Regions from separate parts of the Homo sapiens genome. Here regions 2 and 3 are each linked to region 1. Evidence: fine-mapped expression QTL. A gene starts in region 1. Each other region holds a variant in brackets. All regions are shown on one strand. Distances are between the middles of the regions.

Evidence for each region.
Region 2: its variant is fine-mapped to the expression of NUP107 in cerebellum (GTEx, PIP 0.97).
Region 3: its variant is fine-mapped to the expression of NUP107 in tibial nerve (GTEx, PIP above 0.99). The same link has a PIP of 0.9 or more in B cells, Th1/17 cells, Th2 cells, caudate, esophagus muscle and follicular helper T cells.

The regions. Positions count from the first base shown.
Region 1 is chr12:68,681,855-68,692,650 of GRCh38, forward strand. NUP107 (nucleoporin 107) reads left to right here and starts at 5,124. Exons shown (of 28, transcript NM_020401.4): 1 at 5,124-5,219; 2 at 7,108-7,199; 3 at 7,679-7,765; 4 at 8,777-8,892; 5 at 10,114-10,258. The coding sequence starts at 5,212. LOC100507250 (a long non-coding RNA gene) reads right to left here and starts at 5,005. Exons shown (of 3, transcript NR_038930.1): 1 at 4,883-5,005; 2 at 4,009-4,163. It also overlaps the pseudogene RPL7P42.
Region 2 is chr12:68,935,727-68,946,522 of GRCh38, forward strand. It overlaps a transcript of CPM not described here. Among named protein-coding and RNA genes, the nearest start is that of CPM, 8.0 kb to the left of the region's middle. The variant G/A (reference allele first, on the strand shown) is at 6,459.
Region 3 is chr12:68,709,142-68,719,937 of GRCh38, forward strand. It overlaps NUP107 (nucleoporin 107), which reads left to right. Exons shown (of 28, transcript NM_020401.4): 9 at 97-168; 10 at 864-952; 11 at 4,589-4,667; 12 at 6,486-6,599; 13 at 10,200-10,290; 14 at 10,437-10,513. Among named protein-coding and RNA genes, the nearest start is that of NUP107, 28 kb to the left of the region's middle. The variant A/G (reference allele first, on the strand shown) is at 5,527.

The DNA of each region.
Region 1 (10,796 bases):
CACCACGCACGGCTAATTTTTTGTATCTTTAGTAGAGATGCGGTTTCACCATGTTGGCCAGGCTGGTCTCGAACTCCTGACTTCATGATTTGCCTGCCTCGGCCTCCCAAAGTGCTGGGATTACAGGTGTGAGCCACCGCGCCCGACCTCTGACGGTGTCTTAACTGTGTTGCCCAGGCTGGATGGGCTCAAGCAATCCTCCTATCTCAACCTTCAGAGTAGCTGAGACTACAGACACTGTTTTAAAGTACAGTTTGATTACATGGATTTGGCATGAGCTCAGTCCAAAGCAATGCTCCCCACATCAATTTTATTTAACAGAAGATACATGCTGAAAAATTTAGGGGTGAAGTATCATAACTACAGCTAACTTTCACATGGTTCAGCCAAAACCAAAAAACAAAAAGACAGCAATTGTGGTGAAATATTGTATGTTGAGGTCTACTGTACTATTTTTTTTTTTTTTTTAGACCAAGTCTCGCTCTGTTGCCCAGGCTGGAGTGCAGTGGCGTGATCTTGGCTCACTGCAACCTCTGCCTCCCAGGTTCAAGTGATTTTCCTGCTTCAGCCTCCCAAGTAGCTGGGATTACAGGCACTCACCACCATGCCTGGCTAACTTTCTTTTGTATTTTTAGTAGAGGCGGGGTTTCACCATGTTGGCCAGGCTGGTCTCAAACTCCTGACCTCAGGTGATCCGCCCACCTTGGCCTTCCAAACTGCTGGGATTACAGGTGTGAGCCACTGCAGCCGGCCTTACTGTACTATTCTTATATAAGCTTTTCTGTAGGTTTGAAAATTTTCAAAATAAAAAGTAGGGAGGGGGTGAGCAAGGTGGCTTATCATCCTAGGACTTTGGGAGGTCGAAGCAGGAGGATCACTTGAGCCCAGAAGTCCCAGATGAGCCTGAACAACATAGTGAGACTCCATTTCTACAAAAACATAAATTAAAAAAATTAGCAATTAGCTAGGTGTGGTAGTGCGAGTCTGTAGTCCCAGGTACTCAGGAAGCTGAGGTGGGAAGATTGCTTGAGCCCAGAAGACTGAGGCTATAGTGACCCAAGATTGCGCCACTGAACTCCAGCCTGAGTGATCCAAAGAGCCTGTTTCTTTTTTCTTTTCCCTTTTTTTTTTTTGAGACGGAGTGTTGCTCTCTCGCCCAGGCTGGAGTGCAATGGTGCAGTCTCGGCTCACTGCAACCTCCGCCTCCTGGGTTCAAGTGATTCTCTTGCCTCAGCCTCCAGAGTAACTGGGATTACAGGGGTCCATCACCATGCCTGGCTAATGTTTATATTTTTAGTAGAGATGGGGTTTCACCATGTTGGCCAGGATGATCTCGAACTGCTGACCTCGTGAGTCGCCCACCTCGGCCTCCCAAAGTGCTGGGATTACAGGCGTGAGCCACTGCACCTGGCCCAAAGAGCCTGTTTCCAAAAAAAAAAAAAAAAAAAAACTTGGGGTGGGGTGGTGGGGGTACAAATAATGATATTTGATGCCTCAGCTGTTGGGGATAAGGGAGGTGAAGGATGCTCTGGAGCAAACAGTTGGAGTTTGAGTGTCTTTGGGAAAGACGCTTCCTGGCCTTCAGCTCCTGAGGAGCTGTGCTATCCCAGACCTTTTCTCCAGTTTCTTAACAATTCCAAGATCTCCTGATGTGCTTCCAGTAAATTCCCTTTTGTTTAAGTTAACCATAGTCAATTTCTGTCATTGCAACCAAGAATACTAAACATAAAGCTACCATGTATACAATATACACCACATAAGAAATTTATTCCACATCCTTTTAAGGTAATGAAATGAATATGTTTTGAAATTTTGGCAGGGTTGCTATGGTGTTCATGCCTACTAATTAAATGTGTCAAAAGTGAAACCCAGTGCACTTTCCAAAAAGTTTTCCATCTTTGCATATGAACTGAACACAGGGCTAATTTTTTTGCCCCAAACACAGGGCTAATTTTTATTGTGTGCTTCATGGTCAATCACCTCAAGTACACTTCAAGTATACTACACGAATAAAACTCATTGGAATTCAACTGCTGAGGGACACAGAGCAAGAACATGAACCACAGATCATACTTTGAATAAACTTGCCCCAGCTCTGATTAGGACTACATTTCACTTTCCATAAGAAAAAGTGAACTTGTATACAGGAAAATTAGGAGGTGGGAGAATGAGACCATGCCAGGGCATTATTCTTCAGAAAGGTTATTAAAGGAGAAAAGTAACATTTCAATGACCTGCTATGTACAGTGTATACAGTTGATGTCTCTGTTTTTTTTGTTTGTCTGTTTTGTTTTTTTGAGACAAAGTCTCACTTTTTCATCCAGGCTGGAGTGCAGTGGCATGATCATAGCTCATTGCAGCCTCGGCCTGCCAGGATCAAGTGATCCTCCTGCCTCAGCCTCCCAAGTAGCTGGGACCACAGGCACGTGTCACCACACGTGGCTAATTTTTAAAACTTATGTTAGAGACAGGGACTCCCTATGACATCTTGTTTAATCCTCACAACACCCCCTGACAAAGGTATTGTTTTCTCCACTCTACAGATGAGGAATCTGCAGGTGCAGGGGGGTTGAACCTAGATGGAGCCCAAAGCAATGTTTTTATCAAAATGCCATGTTGTCTGAGAGGGGATAATAAGGTATGAAGAGGCCTTCCGGGGAACTATGCTTCCCAGAATTACAGCAGAACATAAATGCCTAAGGCAAAACTTCCACTGATTTCCTCTTTCCCAGCTGAAACCATGGAGGGTATTGAAGACAAGAAAAAGAAGATTCCTGCTGTGCCAGAAACCCTTTAAAAATGTGAGGGAAGGCTGGGCACTGTGGTTCATGCCTGTAATCCCAGCACTTTGGGAGGCCGAGGCGGGTGGATCATGAGGTCAGGAGTTCGAGACCAGCCTGGCCAGCATGGTGAAACCCCGCCTCTACTAAAAATACAAAAATTAGCTGGGCATGGTGGTGCACGCCTGTAATCCCAGCTACTTGGGAGGCTGATGTACAAGAATCGCTTGAACCGGGGAGGCAGAGGTTTCAGTGAGCCAAGATTGCATCACTGCACTCCAGCCTGGGCAAAAGGGCAAGACTCTGTCTCAAAAAATAAAAATAAAACACATGAAGGAATTTCACAGAGCTAAAGGTCAAGTGCCTGAGAAAGAAGTTTGCCCATAAAATGCTTTGAAAAGAAAGGAGAAGGCCAGGCGCAGTGGCTCACGCCTGTAATCCCAGCACTTTGGGAGGCTGAGGCAGGTGAATCACCTGAGGTCAGGAGTTCAAGACCAGCCTGGACAACATGGTGAAACCCCATCTCTACCAAAAACGCAAAAATTAGCCGGGTGTGGTGGCAGACACCTGTAATCCCAGCTACTCAGGAGGCTGAGGCAGGAGAATCGCTTGAACCCAGGAGGCAGAGGTTGCAGTGAGCCGAGATGGCACCACTGCACTCCAGCCTGGGCAATGGAATGAGACTCCATCTCGAAAAAAAAGAAAAAGAAAAGCAAGGAGAAAGCTACATCTATGAAAAAGCTAGGCACTGTCAGATGTGGTGGCTAACCCCTGTAATCCCAGCACTTTGGGAGACCCAGGTAAGAGGATGGCTTGAGCCCAAGAGTTTGAGACCAGCCTGGGCAACAACATAAGACCCCATTTCTCCAAAATATTTTTAAAAAACGGGGGAGGAGAGGAGGTCAGGCATGGTGGTGCGTGCCTGTGGTCCCAGCAACCTCAGGTACTAGGGAGGCTGAGGTAGGAGGATTGCTGGAGCCCAGGAGGTCAAGGCTGCAGTGAGCCGTGACTGTGCCACTGCACGTAAGCCGGGACAATAGGACAAGATCCTGTCTCAAAAAAAAAAAAAACAAAGAAAGAAGGAAGGAAGGAAACATAATTTAAAAAATCAAGTCCAAAAAAAAGCAAGCAAGAAGTAAAAAAAAAAAGCTCAGCACTGTCACAAGAAATATATGGCAAGAAAAGCTGGCAATTTCTATATACCTGTGAAACCCAAATTGTCACTTGCCTTAAGGATCAAATGTATCAATGGTGTGAGCCCAAAACTCTGTTGCAACTTCTTCACTTTCCCCAGATCTTCAATGGCAGCTTTGTTAAACTCAACAAGGCTTCAGTTAACACGCTGAGGATTGTGGAACCATATATCACATGGAGTACCTGAACCTGAAATCAGTAAATGAACTGATCTACAAATTGGTTATGGCAAAATCAATAAACAAATTACCTTAACAGATAACGCTTTGATTGCTAGATTTCCTGATAAATATGGCATCATCTGACTGGAGAATCTGATTCATGAGATCTATGCTGTTGAAAAACTCAAGTTCCTGTGATCCTTCAAATTATCTTCTCCACGAGGGAGAATGAAGGACTACCTATTTTGTATTAATAAAAGGTATAAATGCCAGCAACAGAAAAGACTATATCAACAGGCTTATTAAACGGATAAACTGAAGCATCTAACATTATTTTTGTAATCTGGTCAGTTAATAGCCAGTCACTACTTTCAAACTGGAAAAAACAAAAACCAAAACAAAAATGTGACTGACTCCTTCAAGACCAAAATACACCACTTTTTGCCTAGACGGCACTTTGAAATAGAGGGCAATACCATCATATTTCACGCTTGCCTTTCTACTTTTTAATACAGGTGAACTTTTTCTCCTTAATAGGAAAGAACACCAAGTAAAGAACAAATAGCAGTTATGGAAAATAGTTGCAAAAACTGCAGGGGGCTACAGAACAAAGGACTGAGTGTAGGCAGAGAGATAGAGATCCCCGAGGTGTGGGGCAGAGCCCACGCATCTGAATTCCAAGAACAGGCGCTTTCTGACAGAGAATACCAGGAAATGACTTCACATTTTTCCAGACTATCAACATACTTCATTCTTCCCAGTAGGAGAACCCAGGGCCTGTTCCACGCCCACAGACTTTGGTCAGGCAAAGCGGCCGCAGGGCGTCTGGGCTAAACGCAACCAGGAACACATTGGCAAACTTTTGCGCCTGCGCCCACCGGGCGTGCACCTGTAGGCTGAAGTCGCGCATGCGCTAGATGGGAACGTTGTTTCTTCTCCCCTACCCCTTTTCTGTGGGTCTGTTTTAGGGACAGACTGCTTCCGGGTCGAAGGGCTTGCTTCCGGAGAGCGGGAAGGCTAAAACGCGGTAGCTAAACTGCAGCCAACTTTGGTTGTGTGTGGAAAAGGCTTTAGCCATGGACAGGTCAGTACTGATGGTGGCAGCTGAGCCCGAAGTCTTGCCCGTCTCGCCTGTTGGCGAAACGAAATAGGTGAAACTAGACTCCCAGAAGAAGCCAAGGAGGTCCCGGGTGCTTCCCCTAAGGCTCCTTCCCCATGCCGGGAAATTTGGCCACAAATGGGGAAAAAGCCGCTTGGCGTGCGTCGGGGTGGGGTACAGATCATAATAGTCCCTTACTTTCCCACTACGTTCTGCGATCTATTCGGCGCTTTGGGGCAGCAACACTGTTCGCTCCTGGGGTGGGCGGGGTAGGTAGCGCGGCGTTCGAAATGCTAAGTGACCAGCCTGAGATCACAAAGCCAGTCAGTGAAGATACTGGGATCTCAGCCCAGACTTTCTGATTACAAGTGCCAGCATCAGATTCTGAGTTCCCTCTATGATCTGGGTACTGTGCTAGCCGCCTACAACAAAGATCAGTTATTCAAGATCCTTCCCCTCGGGGAATTAGTTGTGTAATGGAGACAACCAAGCAGTGTAAAGTGGTAAGTGTTTGGGGGCGATTAAGTCTCCTTGTCACTGTAACTATCAGGAAGACCCCTCAAAGAAGGTAACTTTCTAGCTGGTCTTTGAATAATAAGAGTACATTATTCGTACTCCAAACATTGAGTACCTACTATGTGACTGCCATTGTTCTAAAGGCGTTGAATATATATTATTAGCTTATTTAATCTTCAGAACAAGAAAAATCCTATGAGATGGGTACTGTTATCCTTTTTTCATATATAACACTGAGACTAAAAGAGGTTAAGGAACTTGCTGAAAGTTCGGAAGCTAATAAATACAAGAACCAAATTGCCAACCTGCATCTGTGTGTCTCCAGCCTACCTGAGGCTCTTTGAGGAGTAAGTAGTTGTTGACCAGGTGCTCAAGGGGGCAAATGTAGGTCTTTGTAAAAGAAGCATATTCAGAGGTGCTAGGATATGAAAAAAAAGTACGTGTAGCTCAGTGGTCACATGCAGTATACGTTTAAAGTGATGTTTGTGGCTGAATAGAAGACTGAACCCCTAAACTGGGGTCACATTGTAAATATCATTTTAGGAAATTTTTACTTCTATAGACCAGAGAGCTATCTGAAGGTTTTTTTTTTTGTTTTTAATTTTAATTGTTAAACGTTTAAAATTGTTTCTATGTGGTTGTTTCCCATACTTTCCTGCTGAAGGAATATCTGAAGGTTTTAAGTGGAGGAAAAGCATATTAGATTCTTGTCTTAAACACAGGCCTTTTAGTCCGCACAATTTAGTTTCTAGACCTTTGAGTGAAACTGACAGGGAGTGTTGTGATGGGACAGGAGACCTCCTGGGTTGAAATAACTTGAAGGGTCATTTTGCTCCAATTTACCACAATTCTTTTACTTACCCTTCTATCTCACAAGCTCTGTTTGTTGTTGTTGTTGCAAGCTCTGTTTGTTGTTGTTGTTGTTTGTTTGTTTTTTAATAGTACCCATGGTTTAAAGCATTTTGGAGACTGCAGAAAATCTTTTAAGAGAGAATTCCTGCAGTTAGGTAACTCCTCAATCCAACAAGGGAAATAAGATTCACTTTCATGAAGCAATTATCTAAAACAGTGTTATAATATAGATTCCAAGTGTTGAAATAATTCCTTAGGAGAAAATAACATAGTGAGTACTAGAAAGTCAGAGAAGTCTTTGTGCAGGTAAGATTTGAGTAAGGCTTTGAAGAATAAGCAGGATTTGGAGCCAGGAGTGCGTTCTCAACAAAAGATCTAAGACTTGGCTACTAGAATGACTATACCTTAACTTACTCAGGGTCCTTTACTCCAACTGTGATGATAAAATTCTTTATAAATGCTATATTCTCGTTTCACTTATATAAGCTTGATTATACTACTTTAGGAGTGGCTTTGGAGAGATATCATCCCCTGTAATCCGGGAGGCAGAGGTGACACGGACTGCACGGAAACAGAGTGCTCAGAAAAGAGTTTTACGTATCCTTTGCGATTTAAGCATCATTATAAAAATTGTAACATGTTTGGAATCAGTGTTGTAGAATTTTCTTTTTATAAGAGTATTAAATGGTAGCTATAATAAAATCCTGTAGAAACTTTTTTTCACTCCACAGAGCTGTCATTTGGTAAATATAATGCAAAAATTTAATGAGATCGTATTTCCCTAAAAATAAAGATATTTCTTACTGCTGACAGCTTCTGCTGAGATTAGATTTCTTTTTATTATTTGAAAACTGACTAAAAACATTTAGTTCAGTGTGTAGTTATCTAAGACTGACATCTGATCATTTAAATGGCAGAAGCAATGAATTATTTACCCTTTGCATTGAAAAATGGTAGCCCTAAAATACTTGTTCTTGAAAAATGTATTCACATAATTTGTATAGTAAAAAGATGGTTAATTCTCATTTTAGTGATCTCTTTTCTACATGGAAAACTTTTCTTAACTCGTTGTACAGTTCAGGCATCTCAAGATGAAAATTTTGGTAATACTACACCAAGAAACCAGGTTATCCCTCGAACTCCTAGCTCATTTCGACAGCCTTGTAAGATTTTTTGCTTTTAAAGCATTTAATAATAACGGTAATTATAATAGCAACTAACATTTATTGTAACATAATTAGTATAGTATTTGGTTACGATATCAATAAGCACTAATAATAATGATTGCAGTTATTATTCGTTTGAACTCTTGCCATGTACAAGGTACTGTACTTTCCATAAACACACGGTAACTATGACATGGGTATTGTTGGCCCTGTTTTACCAAAACTGAAAGTGAGACTTAGAGAAGTTAACTAATATATACAATAAGTATGTAAATAGGCTGGATGCAGTGGCCCATGCCTATAATCTCAACACTTTGGGAGGCCAAGGTGGGTGGATCACTTAAGGCCAGGAGTTCAAGACTAGCTTGGCCAACATGGCAAAACCCTATCTCTACTAAAAATACAAAAATTAGCTGGCGTGGTGGCACATGCCTGTAATCCCAGCTACTCCGGAGGGTGAGGCAGGAGAATTGCTTGAACCCGGAAGGCAGAGGTTGCAGTGAGCTGAGATTGTGCCACTGTACTCCAGCTGGGGCGACAGAGCAAAAAAAAAAAAAATCCCAGTTCCATTATTTACATACTCTTTTTTTGTTCTGAGACAGAAAAAAAAGAGTATGTAAATAATGGAACTGGGATTCAAACAATGATCTGTTTACTCCAAAGTTTATGCCCACTACACTGCACTGCCTCAGTATGCCTTATAAAATTAAAATATGAAGAATCCGTTGACTGATTAGTGTCTTTAACTGCTCAGTTATTCTATAATGAAAGCATCTGTAATTGCAGTAAAATGTTTCCTGTTAGGCTCAGTAGTACCTACAGCTCAAATTTAGAAAAATAAGTTAAATCCTTGTATCATGGAAATGTTAACATTTAAAGTATTTATTTGGTTAGAGTCTAAATAATGGAAAACTGAAAAATTTATTCTTCATTGTTTGTTTGCTTACTTTGTTTTGATAATGAATGCTCACGCACTTTAGGTTCTTTCTACCAACCTTTTGTTTATAGTTACCCCAACAAGCCGAAGCTTACTAAGGCAGCCAGATATTTCCTGCATTCTTGGAACAGGAGGGAAGTCGCCCCGACTTACGCAGTCTTCAGGGTTCTTTGGAAATCTCTCCATGGTATGTAGAAAAATAGGGCTAAGAACTCCTTTTGGGTCGAGTGTGGTGGCTCACATCTGTAATCTCAGCACTCCCTGAACTCCTGACCTCAAGTGATTCTCCCGCCTTGGCCTCCCAGAAGTCAGGAGTTTGAGACTAGCCTGCTTAGCATGATAAAACCCTGTCTCTACTAACAATAAAAAAATTAGCTGGGAGTGGTGGCTTATGCCTGTAATCCTAGCTGCTCGGGAGGCTGAGGTGTGAGAATTGCTTGAACCCAGGAGGCAGAGGTTGCAGTGACCTGTGATTGCAAAAGAAAAAAAAAAGAGAAAAAAGAACTTCTCCCTTTTTATAAAAATATGATATTTGATGTAAAAGTCTTTTAACAAATATTGAGTCAGAATCATCATAACAGTAACTTTAGGTTATATGGATTGAAATAATTAGACAGTAAAAAAACTGAAAACCTTATGCATCTGATATCACAGATGGAAACTGTGACACCAGCAACCTTTAGATGAAAATAAGATGTTTTAATCTGTCAGTTTGCTGACCAGAAGAAGTACATGCTGTGGTTGGTTGCTGATGGCTATAAAATCTGATCCCTGTTTTGAAGCATACAAGAGTAGGAATCAGAGGTTAACAGATGAAGAATATCTTAAGGAAGAGATAAAATGTATTAAAGGGGATAAAAGAGAAAATTGGAAAAAGTAGGTGAGATACTCTTTAGGAATCACTATGGAACAGTATTAAAAATAGCAAAAGAAATGTTATGTAAGCTGTGATGCAGAATGACTTCACCTAAGTATTAAAAATACACTATAGTAGCCGGGCATGGTGGCTCACATCTGTAATCCCAGCATTTTGGGAGGCTGAGGCAGGTGGATCACATGAGGCCAGGAATTTGAGACCAGCCTGGCCAACATGGTGAAACCCCATACCTACCAAAAATACAAAAATTAGCCAGGCGTGGTGGCACGTGCCTGTAGTCCCAGCTACTTGGGAGGCTGAAGTGGGAAGATGGCTTGAGCCTGAGAGGCAAAGGTTGCGTTGAGCCATGATCGTGCCACTGAACTCCAGCCTGGGCAACAGATCCAGACCTTATCTCAAGAAGGGAAAAAAAAAAAAAAAGACGCATACATACATATAATTTTTAGAAACCTTATTTGTTTTTAAAGTATCCACTCAGTGACAATAACTCCATCACTTTTCTGTATTTTTACTTTTTTGTTTTTTTTTAAGGTTACTAATCTGGATGACAGTAACTGGGCAGCTGCATTTTCATCACAGCGTTCCGGGCTGTTCACAAACACAGAGCCCCACAGTATAACAGAAGATGTAACTATCAGTGCTGTTATGTTACGTGAGGATGATCCTGGAGAAGCTGGTAAAATGGCATTGAGCTTTGTGACAAGTAGCTTTTCACTTTAGCAAGATGAAGGAAACCATTTCTTCCTGTTTCTGAACGTCATTATGTTTTTCTTTTCTTTCTTTCTGTCTTTTTTTCTTGAGAGAGTAGCTTAAACAACAGATTTTTGTGTGTGTGTTTTTTGAGACAAGAGTCTCACTCTGTTGCCGGGCGCGGTGGCTCATGCCTATAATCCTAGCACTTTGAGAGGCCGAGGCGGGCAGATCACGAGGTCAGGAGTTCAAGACCAGCCTGGCCAACATGGTGAAACCTCGTCTCTACTAAAAATACAAAAATTAGTTGGGTATGGTGGTGCACACCTGTAATCCCAGCTACTTGAGAGGCTGAGGCAGGAGAATCGCTTGAACCCGGGAGGCAGAGTTTGCAGTGAGCTGAGATCGCACCATTGCACTCCAGCCTGGGCTACAGAGCAAGACTCCGTCTAAAAAAAAAAAACAAAAAAAAAAACAGTCACTCTGTCACCCAGGCTAAATGCAGAAATGCAGTGGCACAATCA
Region 2 (10,796 bases), 250 kb after region 1:
TGACTAAGAGGTCTGAGGAGGGGGACTGGAGCTTGAGAAGATTAAATTTAGGCAAAGTTACTCTAGGAATGGGAAAGGGAACTGGGTGGGAACAAAGTGAAGGCTTGCTGATGTACCTTAGAAATCCTATCTTTTTAAGAGAAGTACGTGGACACTATCTGATTTCCTGCAGGGTGCTGTGGCTGGAGACTGGAAGAAATGGTGGCTTCATCAATACTGGAATGGAGATTGCCAGGATTGTTGTTCTGGAAAAACAGAGATGAGCTATAGTTGAAATTGCTGCCATTGGGGTTCACACTAGGTAGGAAGGGAGGCAACTTCAGGAAGGAGTCAGAGAATGGAGGTAGGGGGTACAGAGGACTGAGTGCTGAAGGTTTAGGAGCTAGTAACTCAGAGTGCAGGCCAGGGACAGCACTGGCATCACCTGGGAGCTTGTTGGAAATGTAGAATCTGTCACTCCACTCCAAACCTACTGAATCAGAACACACATTTTAATAAGATTTCCAGATGATGTATATGTACATTCAAGTTTAAGGTGCACTGGTCAAGAGAGAAAAAAAAATTTAGTGTTAAGAGTATGAAAGATAACAGCAAAATAAAAGGTTAGCCTAATAGAGTAAAATACTGAAGTTTAGAGATTTTAGAGGTGATCTTCTTTCTTTCTTCTTTTTTTTTGAGATAGAGTCTTGCTCTGTTGCCCAGGCTGGAGTGCAGTGGCACAATTTTAGCTCACTGCAACCTCCACCTCCCGGGTTCAAGCAATTCTCCTTCCTCAGCCTCCTGAGTAGCTGGGATTACAGGTGCCCACCACCACGCCTGGCTAATTTTTGTATTTTTAGTAGAGACGGGGTTTCACCACGTTGGCCAGGATGGTCTCGAACTCCTGGCCTCAAATTATCTGCCTGCCTCAGCCTCCCAGAGTGCTGGGATTACAGGTGTGAGCCACCAGGCCTGGACCTAGAGGTGATCTTTCTAAGTATGGCACCATTAAAGGTAAAACCATAATAAAAAGGCTAATAATTTGAAAACATACAAATGTATGACTTCTGTACAGAAAACCTTATAAAGGTTATAAGAAGAAAGGTTTAAATCAGGTTATGAGAAAAATTACAAGCTGGAAGAAGGAATTAATGCTCTTACAAAATAAAGAATGAGCAAAGGAGATGAATAAGCAGTTCATAAAAGCAGTAACACAAATAGCTAATAAATATAGTAAAGGTTACCAACCTGGTAAGCAATCAAAGAATTACAAGTTAAAAGGGTAAAGTAATACTTTGTTTTGCTTATCACAAAGCAAGATTAAAAAGATTGACAATACCTGGAAGTAGACAGGATCTCAGGAAATGACATTTATGCTGTTTCAATGGTGTTCTAAATTAATACAATCTTTCTGGAGGGAAATCTGGGAATAGACATCAAAATTTTGTATGTGCCATTCCTTGCTAGAAATTTATGCTATAGAAGTAATTTGAAGATGTGTTGAGTTTGTATATGTTAGGAGCTTCATAAGTGCTGCTGCTTTAAATTGTGACAAAGTAGATAAAACCTAAATGTCAAACAACAGCAGATTGGTTAGATCAGTGGTTCTCAACTTGAGGCAGTAGTGCCCACAGCAGACATTTGGCAATATCTTGAGACATTTTTGATTGTCATAACTAGGGATGGGAGCTACTGGCATCTAGTGCTGATACAGAGGGCAGGGAGGCATTAAATATCCTTCAGTGCACAACACAGCCTCCCACAACAAAGAATTATTCAGCCCAAAATGTCAATAGTGCTGAAGTTAAGACACCCTGGGTTAAAGAATATTATAGCTGTACAATTAATTGTTTTTCAGCCATAATAATGTCAATGTAGATCTGCATTTATTCACTTGGAAAGACAAATTGTTCAGGCAAGAAGCAGATAATAAAAGTAAAATAAATAGTAAGATCTCATTTAGATAAAGCAAACAAAAAAAAACTATTCCCAGCAATGTGTTTCTAAGGTTACCAACATGCTGAGTGCAAATCCACGAGTTGCAATGTTTTAATTTTCTTTTTTACATCTTTCTGTATTTTCTGAAAAGTTTTTCCACCAAACATGCATTGCTTTTTTAAATTGGAAAAACAATGAAGGCATTTTAATTTAAAAGCAAAGCAGAGGAAAAAGCACAAAAGTGTTAGAGAGGACCAATGACTAATTCTGAATGAAAACAGGATCAAAATATCTTAGAGTGAATTACAAAAGTGAAGAGGAGGTAAAGATCACTGGAAATGGGAAATTAAGGAATGAAAAAGCCAGAGTGTTGGATTGGTTCTGTTTAAGGACTCTGAATTTCCCTAAGATAGTAGCAGGAATTGGGACAGAGGGAATAACTATAGTCGGGGCTAAGTACCTCAATAGATGTCAACAAGAATGAGAACAGTATAACTAGACTTTGTGACTTTCAAACTTTTTTCTTTGAAAGTGTCACAAGAAAATCTGAACAAGATAAAAGAAAAATTTTAAACTTACAAATTTTACTTACCTGGAAACAACCATTCTTAAAACACATTTAGGGATGGGGCAAGGTAGTCCCAGCTACTGAGGAGGCTGGGGCAGGAGGATTGCTTGACCCCAGGGGTTTGAGGTTGCAGTGAGCCATGATCGCATGGCACTCCATTCTGGGTGACAGAATGAGACTCTGTCTTAAAAAAAAAAAATCCCCAAACCCCAAAACAATCAAACAAACACACACACATTTAGGTATTAACCAGCGCCCTAATGTGGCACATTTGTTTCTGGTATTTCTTTATTATACACAGCACATCTAGAAACATTCTCAGAGCTAAACCTTTGAGCATGTCCTTACCTCCTTAGGATCATTTCTTAGACATGTAATTGCTAGGTTAAAAAGCATGTACACTTTTAAGACTTAAAATATTTGGCCAAGTTATACTCCTATAAAATGTCAAATGTATAATTTAAAAAATGTTAAAAAGTATTCTCATACAAATATAGAGTAAGCACAGTTCAAGTTTTAATTTTAACTTATTAATGAGGAAACCAGCAGGATAACAAAGCCAGTTCAAAGAAAGACATGAGAAAATATGTGTGTATACACACACACACACACGTATATCTATATGTGTACATATATATCTATATGTGTATATACATATATTATGTATATCTATTTATATATGTACATACATATATATGTATATGTGTATATGCATATATGTATAAATATGTGTATATATCTAAATATACATAGTACATATATGTAAGTATATAGATATTATATAAATATATCTGTAAGTATATATATAGATATTATGTACATACATCTATAAGTATATACATAGATATATGTACATACATCTATATATGTATACACATATGTATCTATATATACATTTACTACATACATATATGTATGTATATATGTACATATATCTATAATAATATATACATAATATATGTATATGTTATGTATATATGTATGTACATCCCATAATGTATATGATGTCTATACATATAGACATCATATATGTATATGATGTATATACTTATGTATATTATGTACATATATACATATAGTATATGTATTATGTGTACACATACCTATATACATATTGTATTTATATTATGTATATACATACTATATATAATATACATATGTAAATATACATCCTATATATATACATAAATATATAAAAAAGAATACTAAAATCATTCTACATTATTGCTAAATTAGATATAAATCTGATTAATGTCTTACAGGGTGATAAACCATAATGTTTGGTGCTATCTTTACAGAGCAAAATTATTTTCATCTGTGCAGGACAGAAATTATATCTCCATTGGACAAAAATATAGCATCTCACCAATTTTCTACAAACTAACATTTGAATTTACAGTTGTAAAATGTGCAAATCTGTAATAACGAGTCAGGATTCAATTCACCTTAGATGGACTGGTTAGGCAATGCCTAACATGAAAACAAATTATGCAATCATATTTTGCTTTCCAAGTTTTGAAAAATTTTTTCTGACCAAAGGTCATTCCAATTTACAGTCCTCACTGGTGATATGTGAAAATGCCTGTTTGGCTCCTCATGATTACTATTATCTCTTTTAAAAATGTTTGCCAATTTCATAGATAAAAATGAAATCTCATAATTTTAAGTTTTAGTATTAATGTGACTGAACATTTCTCTCATAGTCTTATTGAACATTTATTGTTCTTCTTTTAAAAAATAGTCTATTAATAGCTTTTGCTCATTTTTCTGGTTGTGTATTAGTCTTTTCCTTCTGGATTCATAGTTTTTTGATATATTCTTAGAAAGTTTATTCTTAAATTATAAATTAATTTATATTTTCTTCTATTTTTATTTCTTTGGTATTTTTATTTTTTCATTTTTCTTCTTTCATCTCATTTTTTAAAATTAATTTTTTTAGAGCAGTTTGAGATTTGCAGAAAAATTGAACAGAAAGTATAGGGTTCCCATATACCCTTTTCCTGCCCTACCCACATACACAGTTTCCCTTATTATTAACATCTTGGCGTTAGCGTGTCACATCTGTTAAAATTGATGAGCCAATATTGACACATTATTATTAACTAAATCTATAGTTTATATTGCATATGCTATGAGTTTTTACAAATGTATAATGGCATGTATCCAACATTACAGTATCATACAGAATAATTTCATGGCCCTAGTGATCCCCTGTGCTCCACCTATTCATCCCTCTCTCCCTCCCCCAGATTTATATTTGTAGTCCACTTGGAATTTGTTTTCATCTAGTATGTGAACTATGTGTTAATTGTGTGAAGACATTGTTCTGTCAGGACAGATTCCAATCCTTAACCCCTACCTACGAAAGGTTCTCCTGAAGTGTATATGCCCAGAGCACCAGGCCAGGCAACACATCCTTCTTATTACCAAATGGGGCTTTGGTCTCCAAACGTTTGAGTAGGACCACCATCCAAATGAGAAGGGCACTGAGACTTTTAGCAGTTCTCAATGAAACAACAAGAAGAGAACACCTTAACATGTTGGAATTGGGTTGCAAATTTTTCTTTATGATAAAAGATGGCCCTTTATTCTGAGACCATGTCCTTCCTATATTTTTTAAATTATTGTGCTATAAAACATATAAAATTACCATCTTAACTGTTTCTAAGTGTACAGTGCAGTTGTGTTAACTCTATGCACACTGTTGTGCAATAGAGCTCTAGAACTTTTTCAAACCTTGCAAAACTGAAACTCTATACCCACTGAACAACAACCCACCTTTTCTCTCTCTCTCCTGCTCCTGGCTACCAACATTCTTTCTAAAAGTCTGACTAGTTTAGATTCCTAATATAAGTGGAATCATGCAATATTTGTCTTTTTGTGACTGGCTTATTTCTGTTCCATTGGTCAATTTGTGTGTTTTTGTGCTACAGAAGTAATTTGAAGATGTGCTGAGTACGTGTGTGTGTGTGTGTGTGTGTGTGTGTGTGTGTATATAAAGCTAACACATCAGCTGAGAAACAATGTCAGGAAAAATCTAAACATTTGAAATTAATTTCAGTTCAGGAAGTCACCCCAAATAGTGTGAGTGAAGCATCAAATGGTCGCTCAGAAATAACTCGCCCAATAAGGTAAAACTTATTTTACATTATTTTGTTTTTTGTTTGTTTGTTTGTTTTTGAGACAGGGTCTGGCTCTGTTGCCCAGGCTGGAGTGCAGTGACGTGATCACAGCTCACTGTAGCCTTAACCTCCCAGGCTTAAGTAATCCTCCCACCTGAGCCTCCCGGGTAGCTGGGACTACAGGTGTGTACCACCACGCATGGCTATTTTTTTGTGTATTTTTTGTAGATACAGAGTCTCACCATGTTGCCCAGGCTGGTCTCGAACTTCTGGCCTCAAGTGATCTGCCTGCCTAGGCCTTAAAGACACATTTTCTTGAAATTTCACAAGTAGAATATAATGCCTTATACTAATGCTGCTCAATGATTCTTTCTATTGTCTGCTGCTTCTCATGTATCTGAGGGAGTTTGGGCATTTATCTTAAGCTGGGATCTCCTGGTACCTCCCCCAGTACTAAACCTACCTCCTTCAAAGTAGCTCCCCCAACTCAGATCAGTACCCCCAGCAAAACCGGATTTGTTTGTTTTTGATAAAAAAGGAAAGTGACCTTGCAATTCTTCAGAAAGGAAAGATTGCTATTTATAGCTAGAGATAAGAAAATTGTTAGTGAAAAGCTGGATGGTTTTTGTTAAGGTCCAAGATGATCCTTTCCCTAAACTACCACGGGTGATGTCTAAACAGTGGGACTCAGAGATTGAAAGAATATGTCTCAACTCAAGCATTCTCTGTTTAAAACAAGGACTCTGTAGTCTTGGCTGTGCATCTTTTAAAAATTGTTCCTTTATTTTTTTATTAGTAGACTTTGTTTTTTAGAACTGTATGTCTTTTTAATAAGCATTTCTCTAGAAATT[G/A]TGGCTGTGTTTTCTGTTTGTTATGCAAGTTGTCTATCAAAAACCAAACAGAGTAGTTCTTTTATTTTGGATGTGCAACTGTAAATGCATTAGTATTCCTTTGAGAGATTTAGAAAGGATTTGTATACACATTTGTGTTCGTGATAAATTTCTGAATCCTAGAATTTTTCATGGCACAAAGAAAGAAAAGGACTAAAAAAATGCTATCTACATAATCAAAAAGCGTACCATAGGAAGAATATAAAAATACACAGCAATGACTATAAAATCATGCACCGTTATCACACTATTGTCCCTTGTTGGCACTATGTCACTGTGAGAGTAAACCTATTTCTGCTTTGCCCCACTCTCTGATTTTTAATTATTCATTCATTTCCTTATCAATTATTTATTGTTTACTCTGTGTCAGGCACTGCACTTGCTCCTAGGGAATACGACTGTAAACAAGACAGAACAAATCTCTGCCCTTAGGTAGCTTACATTCTACAAGAGCCAAAAATCTCCACTAAAGAATTTCACATGTTCAAAGAAACCTGTGATCTTTCTTGGGGAGCTGGCATAATATTACTTTCTGCTTCTTGTGTCTTATCCCCTAGTGGTTTGTACCACATTCTGTACTGCACAGCATGACCTTCTTAGCTTCACATTCTATCTACTGTTGGTGAAGCAAAATTAAAATGTAATCAGATCAAAGTTTGACACTCCAGTATGCCCTAACACATCAGCTGAGAAACAATGTCAGGAAAAATCTAAACGTTTGAAATTAATTTCAGTTCAGGAAGACACCCCAAATAGAGTGAGTGAAGCATCAAATGGTGTCATTTTTTGTTTCCCCCATGGCATCTAGGTCAGAGCTCAGTGCATGCTTGCTGATTTATAAGTGTTATTCTAGGAAGAATATAGCATCAAGAGATTATATGTAATAACTAAAATAGTAAATTATTAAAAGTAAGGTCTGTGGAACCACACCATCTTAGCTTAAACCCCAGCTCTGTCGCTTACTGTGTGCCCTGAGCAAGTCACTGCACCTCTTGGTGCATTCATGTCCTTTTCTGTAAACTGGGCTAACTCATGGTATTGATCTTAGAGGATTATAGTGACCTTACAGGGTTGCATATATTAAATGAGTTAACATATACAAAGAGTTTAGAACAAACAGTGTCTGGCCTGTTATAAATGCTTTATAAGTCCCAAGCTGAATTCATTTTTATTATTATTACCATCTAGTGAAGATGAACAAGACAGAAAGGGATACAACAGATAGTATATGTTTATATTTATCTTATTTATTTCCACATCCCAGCTCCTTCCAACATATTTGCAATAGTGGAATAGACCTTTATCAACCATAAATTTGTGATAATTTACAATTACAAAGCAATTGTTACAATAGTGACTTTTTCTCTTAAACTCATGGTCTTTGAGTGCAAAATAATGCTTACTTCTCCTACTATACTTTGTTTATATTATAGATTTGCAAGAAAGCTTCTTGGCTCTAATAAGGCCGATTTCCAAAGCAAAGACAGTCCTATTTAGCTGCATTTAATCTGGATTGTGTGATATCAAACAATCTGACATAACAGCAGATGAAAGTCATACTCTTGTCTCTTAGGAAACAATATACTTACTGAAATTTATTTCTTTTCTAGCTTTGTTTCAAATGTCGAGAAAACCATTTCTGGATTTTTTTTTTTTTAAAAACTGTATATTTGAGAAAGAATCTGCCATCTTTGTTAATACCCTGTACCTGTAGCAGAAAGAAAGGCAGGGGGAGTGTGGGAAGAAGGGAAAAATGTATATATAGCAGAGTGACAAAGAGACTGTTTGAAGATAGTTAATAATTTGTAAGTTCATCTAATCATTTACTTTTCAATGACCCTTTTGAAAACAGCATACATCATATCTATTCAACAATGACCTCTGGAAAGTCAAATTATAAATATACTCAGACAATAGCCAAACAAATTCTTTTGTCTCCTCATGACTCATGATTAATTGGTTCATTCATTCCTTCTGTTGATAATTATTTAATGAACATCTAATAATATGCTAAGCACTATGAATACCATGGTGTAAAAGAGAAACATAGTCCTCACTTTGATAGAGTTCATATTGTATTGGGAAAGATGATACAGAGATAAGCAGTCACTCAGTTGCCATTTTGATGCCTATTACAGAAAGAAAATTACAGGATATTATGAGACATACTATCAGAACGTACTTACTTTTTTTCTTTTTAGACAGTTTCTTGCTCTGTTGCCCAGGCTGGAGTGCAGTGGTATAATCATAGCTCACTGAAGCCTTGAACTTCTGGGCTTAAGCAATCCTCCCATCTCAGCCTTCTGAGCAGTTGGGACTACAGACACATGCCACAACACCCAGATAATTTATTTTTTGTAGATATGGGGCCTCACTTCGTTGCACAGGATGGTCTCAAACTCTTGGCTTCAAGTCATCCGCCCAGCTCAGCCTCCCAAAATACAGGAATGATAGGCATGAGACACCATGCCTGGCTCCTTCACCTTGTTTTTTGTTTTTTTTTTTTAAATTACAATAAAGAAGTGACAAGGCAGCAGAGCAGAAAGACTGGAGTTACCACTCAAATCAGTCTTTCTGAGAACTCAGACGTTAGGATTTTTAAAGATAGTTTGGTGGGCGGGGACTAGGTAATGGGTACTGCTGATTAGTTGGGAAAAAAATCATAGGGGTGTGGAAAACTGTCCCAGTGAGCTGAGTCTGCCTCTGGGTGGGGGCCACAGGACCAGTTGAGTCATGAGTCATGAGTCCAGGTAGGATCAGTTGATGGCCAGAATACAAAAATCTGAAAAACATCTCAAGAGACCAATCTTAAGTTCTACAGTAGTGATGTTATCTATAAGAGCAATTGGGGAAGTCACAAATCTTGTGACCTCTGGCCACATGACTCCTGAGCAGTAAGGGATTATAAAAGTATACCTATACTTTAGCAGAATTCAGGTCCCTCCAATAACCCTAATCTTGTGGCCTTTCATTAGTTTTCACTCTCTAAGCAAGGAGGAGATTAGTTTTAGGGAGGGACTGTTATCATCCTTGCTTCCAAGTGAAACTATAAACTAAATCCCTCCCATGGTTAGCTCTTTGTGCCCCCAGGAATTAGCAAAGACAGCCAGCCTGTGAGACTAGAAGCAAGATGGAGTCAGTCAAGTTAGACTTTTCTTGCTGTCATAATCTTTGCAAAGGTGGTTTCAGTTCCCTCCCTTGTGCTTCAGCACACCTCAATCCTGAGGTGTGAGCTGGGGAGATGGGAAAAGGCTGACAACTGCTCTTCCTGTTGACAGGGGGTATAGTTGGGGCAAGGGTTGCCCCCAAGGTAAGAGGAGTGAAACCATTTTGCAGTTGTCTGTATGTATTCCCAGGTGCCTTGTTGGGTCCCCAATGTTGGTATAACAAAAACGTTAGTATTCTTATCCACATCGTTAGTATAGCACTTAAGAGAACAGTAAACTACAAGAGACCTAATGCAAGGTGTGAAAGTCTTAGCTTCAGGAGTCCTTGCAGAACTGATCTGAAGCCTTGAGGGATTCAGGTAAATATCCCCAAGAACCAATCAGATGTGAGTCATTAGTATAGGCTCACAAACAATGGACAAGGCTAGAATTTTTTTCTTTTCTTTTCTTTCTTTCTTTTTTTTTTTTTTTTTTTTTTTTGAGACAGTGTCTCACTCTGTTGCCCAGGCTGGAGTGCAGTGGCATGATCAGAGCTCACTGAAGCCTCGACCTCTAGGGCTAAAGTGATCCTGCCATCTCAGCCTTCCAAGTAGCTGGGACTACAGGTGTGCACCACCACACCCAGCTAATTTTTAAATAATTTTTTGTAGAGATGGGGTCTCCCTATGTTGCCCAGGCTGGTCTCGAACTTCTGGGCTCAAGTGATTCATCCTCCTGCCTCGGCCTCTCAAAATGTTGGGATTACAGGTGTGAGCCACTGTGCCCAGCCAAGGCTAGAATCTAATAACAGGCATGCTATAGGTTTTTTTTGAAACATAATTTTTCCCTCTCCAGTTTTCCCCCATTTTTACCAAAGACAAATCATAGCAGGACCAATTTATTTGCAAAATAAGCTTTGGTTTTATTTATACTAGGCCTAATTGTTTGCATGAAACATAACATGAATAATTATTTGCTATATAGGCCTTTTTAAAAAATTGGCTTTGCTGGATGTTTTTTTAATAAGGAATCTCAGATTAGACCTTTTAAAAGCATCTTGAGCCCAGCCAAAGATTTATTTGTGCCTGCAGATACCTGTATGAATTGAATGAATTCCTCATTTCTAGAGGTACCAAAATAACTTGGGATTCCT
Region 3 (10,796 bases), 27 kb after region 1:
TGTTTCATACTGGCTTTTTATCTTTCTATTAAAATAATATTTCTTAACAGCATCTTCTTTTCATTCTGTTTATCCTTTTAATATTTTTCATAATAGGCTGTTAATGCCAGTGAAAAAACAGTTGTGGAAGCGTTATTTCAGAGGGATTCACTTGTTCGACAAAGTCAGGTATGACTAGAATTTAAAATTTTTTTTTATGAAACATGGAGAAAAGGTTAATGACATGCAAAGTACTGAAGTGTTTTTTAACTTAAAACTGTTTTCTGAATTTTTTTTCTACTTGATCTTTTTATTTGCAATTAAAAGGAATTAGAAACCTTATTCTTTGATTTTTAAGTAATAGCCCTAGTATTTTCAGGAATAGCCTGTTAAAAACGATTATTCCTATAGAAAATTTTATTCTTTTGCCATAATATTTATTTATCTTAAAGTAAAAATAGTGTTTGGAAAAATTGTTACTTGATATTTTTAAAATCAGAAACTTCACGCCTGTAATCCCAGCACTTTGGGAGGCCAGGGCAGGCAGATCTCGAGGTCAGGAGATCGAGACCATCTGGCTAACAGTGAAACCCCGTCTCTACTAAAAATAAAAAAAAAATTAGCTGGGTGTGGTGGTGGGCGCCTGTAGTCCCAGCTACTTGGGAGGCTGAGGCAGGAGAATGACGTGAACCCAGGAGGCAGAGCTTGCAGTGAGCCGAGATTATGCCACTGCACTCCAGCCTGCACGACAGAGTGAGACTCTTTCTCAAAAAAAAAAATAAAAAATCTGAAACTGTTTGAATTAAGGGTAGTAGTACCACTACAAATAAAACACAAATAGATTTGGTAGTTAACACTAATTTATTTTTTTCTTTCTTTCTTAGCTGGTGGTAGATTGGTTAGAGAGTATTGCCAAAGATGAAATTGGAGAATTTTCTGATAATATTGAGTTTTATGCAAAATCAGTATATTGGTAAGTTACCAAACTTTAATTCTTAAGGTCACTCAATGTTGATATTGTTCATTCATCTTTCAATAAGTATTATTCAGTTTTTACTTTGTTCACACTACTTTGTTCACACTACTTTGTTTGGTGTGTGAGCAAAACAAATAAAGGCTTTGCCTTTATGGAATTTATAATTGTTTAAGAGAGTTAGATAGCTGATTTGCAAATATACAGTTGGCCCTCTGAGTTTGTGGGTTTCGCATCCATGGATTGAACAAACTGCAGATCAGAAATAATTGGAATAAAACAAGCCGGGTGTGATGGCTCACGCCTGTAATCCCAGCACTTTGGGAGGCCAAGGTGGGGGATCACGAGGTCAGGAGTTCCAGACCAGCCTGACCAACATGGTAAAACCCTGTCTCTGCTAAAAATACAAAAATTAGCCGGGTTTGGTGACGCACACCTGTAATCCCAGCTACTTGGGAGGCTGAGGCAGGAGAATCGCTGAAATCCAGGAGGTGGAGGTTGCAGTGAGCCGAGTTCATGCCATTGCACTCCAGCCTGGGCGACAGAGCAGGCCGTCTTAAAAAAAAAAAAAAAAAACAGAAAAGAAATAATTGGAATAAAACAATAAAAATAACAAGATAAAAAAAGTAATACAAATTTAAAAATATAGTATAATAGTTATTTGCATAACATTTACGTTGTATTAGGTATTCTAAGTAATCGAGATGATATAAAGTATATGGGAGAACATGTGTAGGTTATATACAAATAATACAATATTTTATGTAAAGGATCTGAGCACCCTTGGATTTTGGTATCCAAGTAGGGTCCCCTATGGATACCAAGAGACAAATGTATATTCTGTTGGGTATTCCGAGCTTTGGGGAAAAAAATGAATTAGAGGCTCGGCGCTGTGGTTCACACCTGTAATCCCAGCACTTTGGGAGGCTGAGGCGGGTGGATCACGAAGTCAGGAGATCAAGACCATCCTGGCTAATGCGGTAAAACCCATCTCTACTAAAAATACAAAAAATTAGCCAGGCGTGGTGGCGGGCGGATCACGAAGTCAGGAGATCAAGACCATCCTGGCTAATGCGGTGAAACCCATCTCTACTAAAAATACAAAAAATTAGCCAGGCGTGGTGGCGGGCGCCTGTAGTCCCAGCTACTTGGGAGGCTGAGGCAGGAGAATCGCTTGAACCCAGGAGGCAGAGGTTGCAGTGAGCCGAGATTGCGCCACTGCACTCCAGCCTGGGTGACAGAGTGAGACCCTGTCTCAAAAAATAAATAAATAAATAAAATAAAAGTAACTCAGAAGGGAGATTGTTTTTAAAGTAGGAGATCCTGAATTCTGTATTTAAATACTGATATGACAGGAGCTTGAACCTGGGAGGCAGAGCTTGCAGTGAGCCAAGATCGCTCCACTGCACTCCAGCCTGGGTGACAGAGCGAGACTCCACCTCAAAAAAAAAAAAAAGGATTAGAATTAATGGATAGATACGACAGGGAGTCCTACTTTAAATTGAAGAGAAGGCTTTTCTAAGGTAGTAAGAGACTTTTATGAAATAAAGGCAGCCAGCCATGCAAAAATCTGGGGGATAACTATTCTGAGCAGGAAAACAAACTGGAATGACCCAGAGAACGTAAAGTGTTTGCACAAAGAAGCCAGTGGGAACACAGCAAGGAAAAGAATGGTAGAAAACAAGACTGGAGGAAGCCAGATATAGGGCTTTTACAGGCAGACAAATGTAACTATTCTGGACTTTATTCTAAATGTGATGGGAAACCTTGAGAATAGAAGAATGACATGGTCCAATTTATGTTTTCAAACAATCACCTGCCTGCTTTTTTCTTAATAAGATTATTGATCATATCAGAAGATGATCTTCTGATTGTCAAGAAGACACTTCTGTCCTGTTTTCAGCTACTTGTGTGGGTTTGTTTTGTTTTGTCTTGCTTTTGCTTACACTCTTCAGTACTTCTAAATTATTATAGGCCCTTGAAGCCAGAAACCTCCCCTAAGTTAAAGGGACAGTTTATTTTAAGTCTTGCAAAAGATTTTTAAAAGGTCAGATTGTGGCTGGGCATGGTTTAAGACTTGCAAAAGATTTTTAAAAGGTCAGATTGCGGGCAGGTACAGTGGCTCACACCTGTAATCCTAGCACTTTGGGAGGCCAAGGCAGGTGGATCACCTGAGATCAGGAGTTCAAGAGCAGTCTGGCCAACATGGTAAAACCGCATCTCTACTAAAAATACAAAAATTAGCCAGTCGTGGTGGCGGGCACCAGTGAGCCAAGATCACGCCATTGCACTCCAGCCTGGGTAAAAAGAGCAAAACTCCATCTCAAAAAAAAAAAAAAAAAAAAAAAAAGTCAGATTGCCAGATTGCCTTTGAATTCAGTAATATGTGTACAAAGTCTGTAAGTCAATTATATATTTTCTCTGCTTAGCTAGGAAATTACTGCTACTAAGCATTTGTTAAAAATTAAATCTTAAGTGGATGTGATTTTTTTTCTGAAAGGAAGTTTTCATTTTCAGAAAATAAGTTTTTTTTTTTGTTTTTTGTTTTTTGTTTTTTTTTTTTAGTTAAAATGCCCTGTTGGGTTTTTACAATTTTTAATGAGTTAATCTCCTTTTTTTTGCTGATCAGCGGAACAGAACAGAGAACCCCACAATAGATTCACACTGATATGGTCATTTGGTTTTCAACAAGGACATCAAAGCAATCCAGCAGGGAATGGAATGCCTTTTTTACAAACTGCAGAAAAATGATATCTATGAGAAAGAAGATTAACCTTGATGGCTCCCTCACTCCATACCCAACAATTAATTCAAGATGTGTCATAGTCCTAAATGTAGAAGCTAAAAACCATAAAGCTTTTAAAGAAAAGCATAGGAAGATATCCTAGTAACTTGAGAATAGATAGATGTATCTTAGCTCATAGAAAGCAATAATCAGGCAAAAAAATTGGTTTGACTTTATCAAAATTAAAAATGTATCATTAAAAAAACACCATTGGCCAGACATGGTGGCTCACACCTGTAATCCTAGCACTTTGGGAGGCTGAGGCAGAAGGATTACTTGAGGCCGGGAGTTCAAGACCAGCCAGGGGAACACAGTGAGACCCCCATCTCTACAAAAATATTAAAATGTTAGCAGGGCATGGTGGCGCGTGTCTGTAGTCCCAGCTACTCAGGAGACTGAAATGGGAGGATCACTTGAGTCCGGGAGGTCGAGGCTGCAGTGAGTCATGATTGTGCCACTGCACTTTAGCCTCGGCAACAGAGCGAGACCCTGTCTCCAAAAAAAAAAAAAAAAAACCCACCATTAAGAAAATAAATGGGAGCAAGCCACAGACTGGGATGTGTAGTTCATAAAGAACTATAACTCAATAGTAGAAAGATAATCCTAGTAAAAAGGGCAAAAATTTGAACTGATACATCACGAAACCAGATAGATGAATGGCCAATAAGGACATGAAAAAGCCCTCAACACCATTAGTCATCTGAGCTAAAATGTACTTCTGTATTAAGGATTTTTGCATGTTTTTACTGGGATTGTAGTCTGTCTTTCTTCCTTTGACTTGATTTGATTTTTTAAAAATAGACCTATTAAAATTACCTCTTAAAAAATTTGGTACTTATTATTTCTTTCAGGGAAAATACTCTGCATACCTTAAAACAACGGCAGCTGACTTCTTACGTTGGAAGTGTTCGTCCGCTTGTCACTGAATTGGTAAATGTTCTTTGAAATGAAAGTTGCCTTCAAAGTTAACTGATTTTTTTTTTCAGGCTGAGAATTTTTTCTCGTGGATCTTTGTTTTGCTCTTCTAAAGGTTTGCACACACTAACATTTTACTCTAAAACAACTAAGTTGCATTGGAATCTGATGGAATATATTGAAACATATCCGTGACCTTTGAATTGTAAGTAATAAGTTGTGGAAAGTATACTTAACTTGACAGCATTAAAAACAAATTAATTTTGGTCTTATCTTAAGATTTGACTGCCTATATAAGGTAGTGACTGACCTATGAAAGCTCTTTTATGTTGAAAGCAAGTGAAAAAAAACTAAAGCCTTATTGGTTTGAGGTTAGAACGGTTATTTGAAAAGTGGATTTGAAAAGAACTGAAGCTGAATTATTCTAAAAACAAAGGAATGAAGCTTTATGACAGGGCACGTGAAATGTTTATAGTGAAAAGAGAGAAATAAGTAACAATTGAAAAAAACTTCTAGAATTCCATTTAGTAACAAAGAGGTTTTTGATGAAAATTGTTTGGGAAAAAGAAAAAGAAAATTGTTTGGAAACTACTCTTAACAGCTTAAAATTGATTATAGCTAAATTACATTGTAGCAGGCAACAGCTGAAAATCGTTTAATCTTACCAGCTGGAAAGTGGTGATTTCCTTTTGCCAGAAAGAGACCATGTTCCAAAATTGAATTATGTGTTTGCAAAATATTTATGAAAGTAGTGAATTGATCTATTATGTATTCCATTTTCTGAATTGATATTCATATTACCATACACTAAGTAACATGTGGAGTAAGAATTACTTCCTTTCTTGAGTCACATTAAAATTGTTTTCCATTGGAA[A/G]TCCATCATGTAGATCATGTGTGCTGTTTGCTGCTAAAGTGAGAACAATATATTATCCTAAATGCTTAGAAGCACATGGAAAAAAGGTAGGTAGAAATAACTGTTTTGGGAGATTTGTACTTATTTATTAGAAATCTGTTTAAATTTTTTTATTAGGCATTGGTGTTTTTTATGTGGCATTAATCCCAAAATAGGTCTTAATAGGCCCTCTTCCCATATGTTCTCAAAAAGTACCAGGTAAGCACTTTGTAGTCACAGAACAGAAGGTTTTTGCTTTGTGTTCTTCTTCCATCTAGGTCTAATTCTATTTAAACTTGACCATGTAGCTGCTGTGATAGAGTGAAACTCAAGTCATCTTCTAGTGTTACCTGGGCTGGGATAGGCTAGTAGTATTTCTGCCTTGCCTGACTGAGGCATGCCCTTTGTGGGCCAACTGAGTATGTTTTAAGTAGGGAAGCAGATGACTATGTGGCTATTTGGAACACTTGTAATCTTGTGAGAGCTTCATTCCCTTTGTTACTTAATTAAATTGAAACAATTTATTTCAGCCAGGCGCAGTGGTTCACGCCTGTAATCCCAGCACTTTGGGTGGCCGAGGTGGGTGGATCATGAGGTCAGGAGTTCGAGACCAATCTGGTCAACGTGGTGAAACCCCGTCTCTACTAAAAATACAAAAATTAGCTGGGCGTGGTGGCGTGCACCTATAATCCCAGCTGCTCGGGAGGCCGAGGCAGGAGAATTGCTTGAACAGAGGAGATGGAGGTTGTGGTGTGCTGAGATCGCGCCACTGCACTCCAGCCTGGGCGACAGAACAAGACTCCGTCTCGGAAAAGAAAAAAGAAAAAATGAATTTATTTGTGTATAAACTCAGGATAGGTTTATCATCTCTTGATGATGTGTAAAATGTATGTAAGTACAAAGGATTTATGGTTGATGATGACTTTTTTTTCTTCTTACAGGACCCTGATGCTCCCATAAGACAGAAAATGCCCCTTGATGATCTGGATAGAGAAGATGAAGTTAGATTACTCAAATATCTCTTTACTCTAATCCGTGCTGGAATGACAGAAGAGGTCAGTCATGTATACCCTTCTTGTCTAATTTCAAAAAGTCATAGACTCTTTGAGTTGGAAGAGATTTTTGTGGCTGCCTAGTAAGCCTTCTTAATGTAGTAATTCCATTCATGGTATTTCTAGATCTAACTTCCTGTTCGAACATTTCCGGTGATAAGGCACATGTAACTTGAGAAAACAATGTAATCTAGTTTGTACAACTCTAATTAATAGAAAATTATTTATAACAAGTCATACTTTTCTTCCCCATATTGCACTGCATACTCTAGGTATATCCCCATTATTTATTTTTTTGTTCCGTTTGAGATTTTTGTTTTTGTTTTTGTTTTTTTTTTGAGACAGTGTCTTGCCATGTTGCCCAGCGTAATCTCAAACTTCTGGCCTTAAGTGATCCTCCCGCCTTGGCCTTAAAAAGTGCTGGGATTACAGGCATGAGACACTGCACCTGGCCCAATCTCCATTCATTTTTTTTTCCTTTTTCTTTCTTTCTTTCTTTCTTTCTTTCTTTTTTTTTTTGAGATGGGATCTCACTGTCGCCTAGACTGGAATGCAGTGATATAATCATGGCCCACTGCAGTCCTTACCTCCCGGGCTCAAGCCCTGCCTCAGCCTCCTGAGTAACTGGGACTACAGGTACACGCCACTATGCCCAACTAACATTTTTATTTTTTGTACAGACGGAGTCTTACTATGTTGTCCAGGCTGATCGTGAACACCTGGGCTCAAGTGATCTTCCTGCATTGGCCTCCCAAAGTGCTGGGATTGCAGGCATGAGCCACTGCACCTGACCCAATCTTCATTATTTCTAATTCTGATTTTTCAGAGTTTAGAATAAACCTAACCCTAATTCTAGGTGATACTATTTAGGCACTTGAAGGCTACAATGGCCCTCAAACTTCTTCCTTTTAACCTTACCTTTTAAAAATGTGGGTGATAGTTAATATCTTATATGTAGAATGATAAGTATCTAATTGGACAGTTTACCAGATGCCTCTTTAGGTGAGATAGTGTGATGTGTAGGAGTTTGGCTTCAGTATTATGTTGTACTTGGTTTACAGTACTTTTTGCAATGGTCTTTAGACAGATTCTATGTCAGTTCAAAGTGTTGTTTGTTTTCTTCTGTGCTATCAACCATAAGCATATATTAATTTCTTATGTAATTTCTTTTTTTTTTTGAGATGGAGTCTCGCTCTGTCACCCAGGCTGGAGTGCAGTGGCGCGATCTCGGCTCACTGCAACCTCCGCCTCCCAGGTTCAAGCAATTCTCCTGCCTCAGCCTCCCAAGTAGCTTGGAATACAGGCACACGCCTCCACGCCTGGCTAATTTTTTGCATTTTAGTAAAGACGTGGTTTCACCGTGTTGCCCAGGCTGGTCTCAAACTCCTGAGCTCAGGCAGTCCGCCTACCTCAGCCTCCCAAAGTGCTAGGATTACAGGCGTGAGCCACCACACCCGGCCATGGGATTTATTTTAAAAAACAAAAATACAATCATATTATTGAAGGCTCAAAAAATAGAAATTCTCAAGGTCTCACTAGCTTTATAAAACCACAGATAGTGAGTGTTTTGTATTTACTTATAGCCCTTTTTCTTTGGTCTTCCTTTTTAAGGTAGTTGCAGTCATACTATACATTCAAGTTTTTTCCCTCTTTTTTAATAGCAATTTGAGATAAAATTTACATACCATGTAATTCACCCATTTCAAGTGACACCATTCAATGGTTTTGGTATATTACATTATTGATTTTGTGAATCGTATAATATATATTATTATATTATATAACAAAATGTGCCATTTTAATCATTTAAGTGTGCACTTCATGGCATTCATTACATTAACAGTATTGGGAAACCATCACCACTGTCTGTTTCTAAAACTTTTTCATCAACCCAAATACAAACTGTAACCATTATATGCAGTAACGCCTCATTCTCTTCTTCCCTCAGCCCCTGTAACCTCTAATCTACTTACTGTCTCTATGATGTATAGGTAGAATCATACAATGTGCTTTTGTGACTATCTTATTTCACTTAGCATAATGTTTTCAACATTCTATATTGAGTTTTTATCCTGCCTTTTTAAGATACCATATCAAAATAGTTTTCCATGTTAATTCTTACATAGCTCTCATAGATTTTAAAGGCTATAAGTTCAGAATGATGTTAGGGGTATGATATTCTTTAACTAGTTGTATCAATCAGGCTTTCTGGGTTCAAGTGATAGAAACCCAACCTAAGTTACTTTATGCTTACAAGAGGAGAATTGATTGGCTCATGGAAGTGGGAAGTATAGAAGGTATATCTGGCTTTCAGCAGGATCCAGGAACTCCAAAGATATCACTAGGATACTGTCTGTGTCCAAGACCCATAGCTCAACCCTCCTCTCTGTGCCTTCATTCCCAGAAAGCTACTCCCCATGTTGTATCAGAGATGGATACAAGAAGCTCCAAGCTTACATGGAGCTAGCAATCTCAGTAAAAGGAGTATATTTTCTTTCCCAGTATCTCCACCAAGAGTCCTGGTGGTGAATCTTGTTAGCTCACATCCCTAACCTTAGATTTCTGGAATCGGATCAGGCCTATCCAAAACACAGGAGCCAAGAATGGGGAAAAGGTGATTCCCTAAAGGGATGATGGAACAAAAACATGTATTTACCTTACTGGTATATAAACACATTGACTTACTGACTTATTGGTCAAGTTGAACATGCAGTATCATCAGTGGAGTAAATGAGCAGTAACAACCTTGTCATTAGAGACTGTTTTTTTAATAGTTTTTCATAAATCAGAGGTCATCAACCTCTTTAACCCCATTTGTTTCTAGCAGAATTAAATGCCAGTGGGTGCCGTGGGAACGTATTGTTAAGCCTAAAGTCAAACAGAAAAGGGATTTTTTAGAAATAAAAACAGGGCCAGGTATGGTGGCTCATACCTGTAATCCCAACACGTTGGGAGGCTGAGGTAGGGGGGATCCCTTCAGTCCAGAAGTTCGAGACCAGCCTGGGCAATATAATGAGACTCTGTCTCTACAAAAAAATTTAAAAAAGAAAGAAAAATAAAGGCAGAGGCCACAGAAAGGCATGCATATGTTTTAAAAATAGAATGCCATTATGTATGTATGTATGTATGTATGTATGTATGTATGTATGTATGTATTTATTTAGTTTTTGAGACAGGGTCTCACTCTGTCATCCAGGCTGGAGTGCAGTGGCGCAATTTCGGCTCACTGCAACCTCTGCCTCCTGGGTTCAAGCGATGCACCTGCCTCAGCCTCCCGAGTAGCTGGGATTACAGGTGCCTGCCACTGCGCCTGGCTAGTTTTCCTGTTTTTAGTAGAGATGGGGTTTCACCATGTTGGCCAGGCTGATCTGGAACTCCTGACCTCAGGTGATGCACTTGCCTTGGCCTCCCAAAGTGTTGGGATTACAGGCGTGAGCCACCACGCCCAGCCAGAATTCCATTATTAACTGTCTACATCCATCCCTTGTAATGGGATGGATGGAACATTTGTTCCATAAGTTATCTAAGCTTGTCATATATTGGTTATACTTTACTATAAAGCACCCTGGTTATTGGACTGACTGCTCTTTCTTGTTTTCTAAGGCACAACGACTCTGTAAACGCTGTGGTCAAGCATGGAGAGCTGCAACACTTGAAGGCTGGAAACTGTACCATGACCCTAATGTTAATGGAGGTATTTTAGTAGATTTTATTCTGACAGTTGAGGACAAAGGCATTTCGCTCTAAATGCCAATCTTTGTGAACTATAGCTTCTCTTTTTAGAAAGAATTGTAATAAGGTCTTATTTTAAACCAGAAATTTTCTTTTGCTATTTTATAGGAACAGAATTAGAACCTGTTGAAGGGAATCCATATAGACGCATTTGGAAAATAAGTTGCTGGAGAATGGCAGAAGATGTAAGATAAATAAAATATTCAGTGATACTGTTTTTAACTCCAATTAATTGAAAGCCTATTCAGGGGCTGTGAAACATTGAAAGTAGTGTAAAACTGGTTTTCAGAGAATTTCCAATTAAATTGAGGAATAGGCTTAACTACTTATCAGAATTATTAAAACACTGTGTACTAAGAATTAAACACTGATATAAGGCAGAAAAGTAAAGGAGGTACCAAATGAATTTAGAGAAAAAGTACTGGGCTAAAGCTTAAAGCTGGCTTCCCTGAGGAAAGAATTGAATTG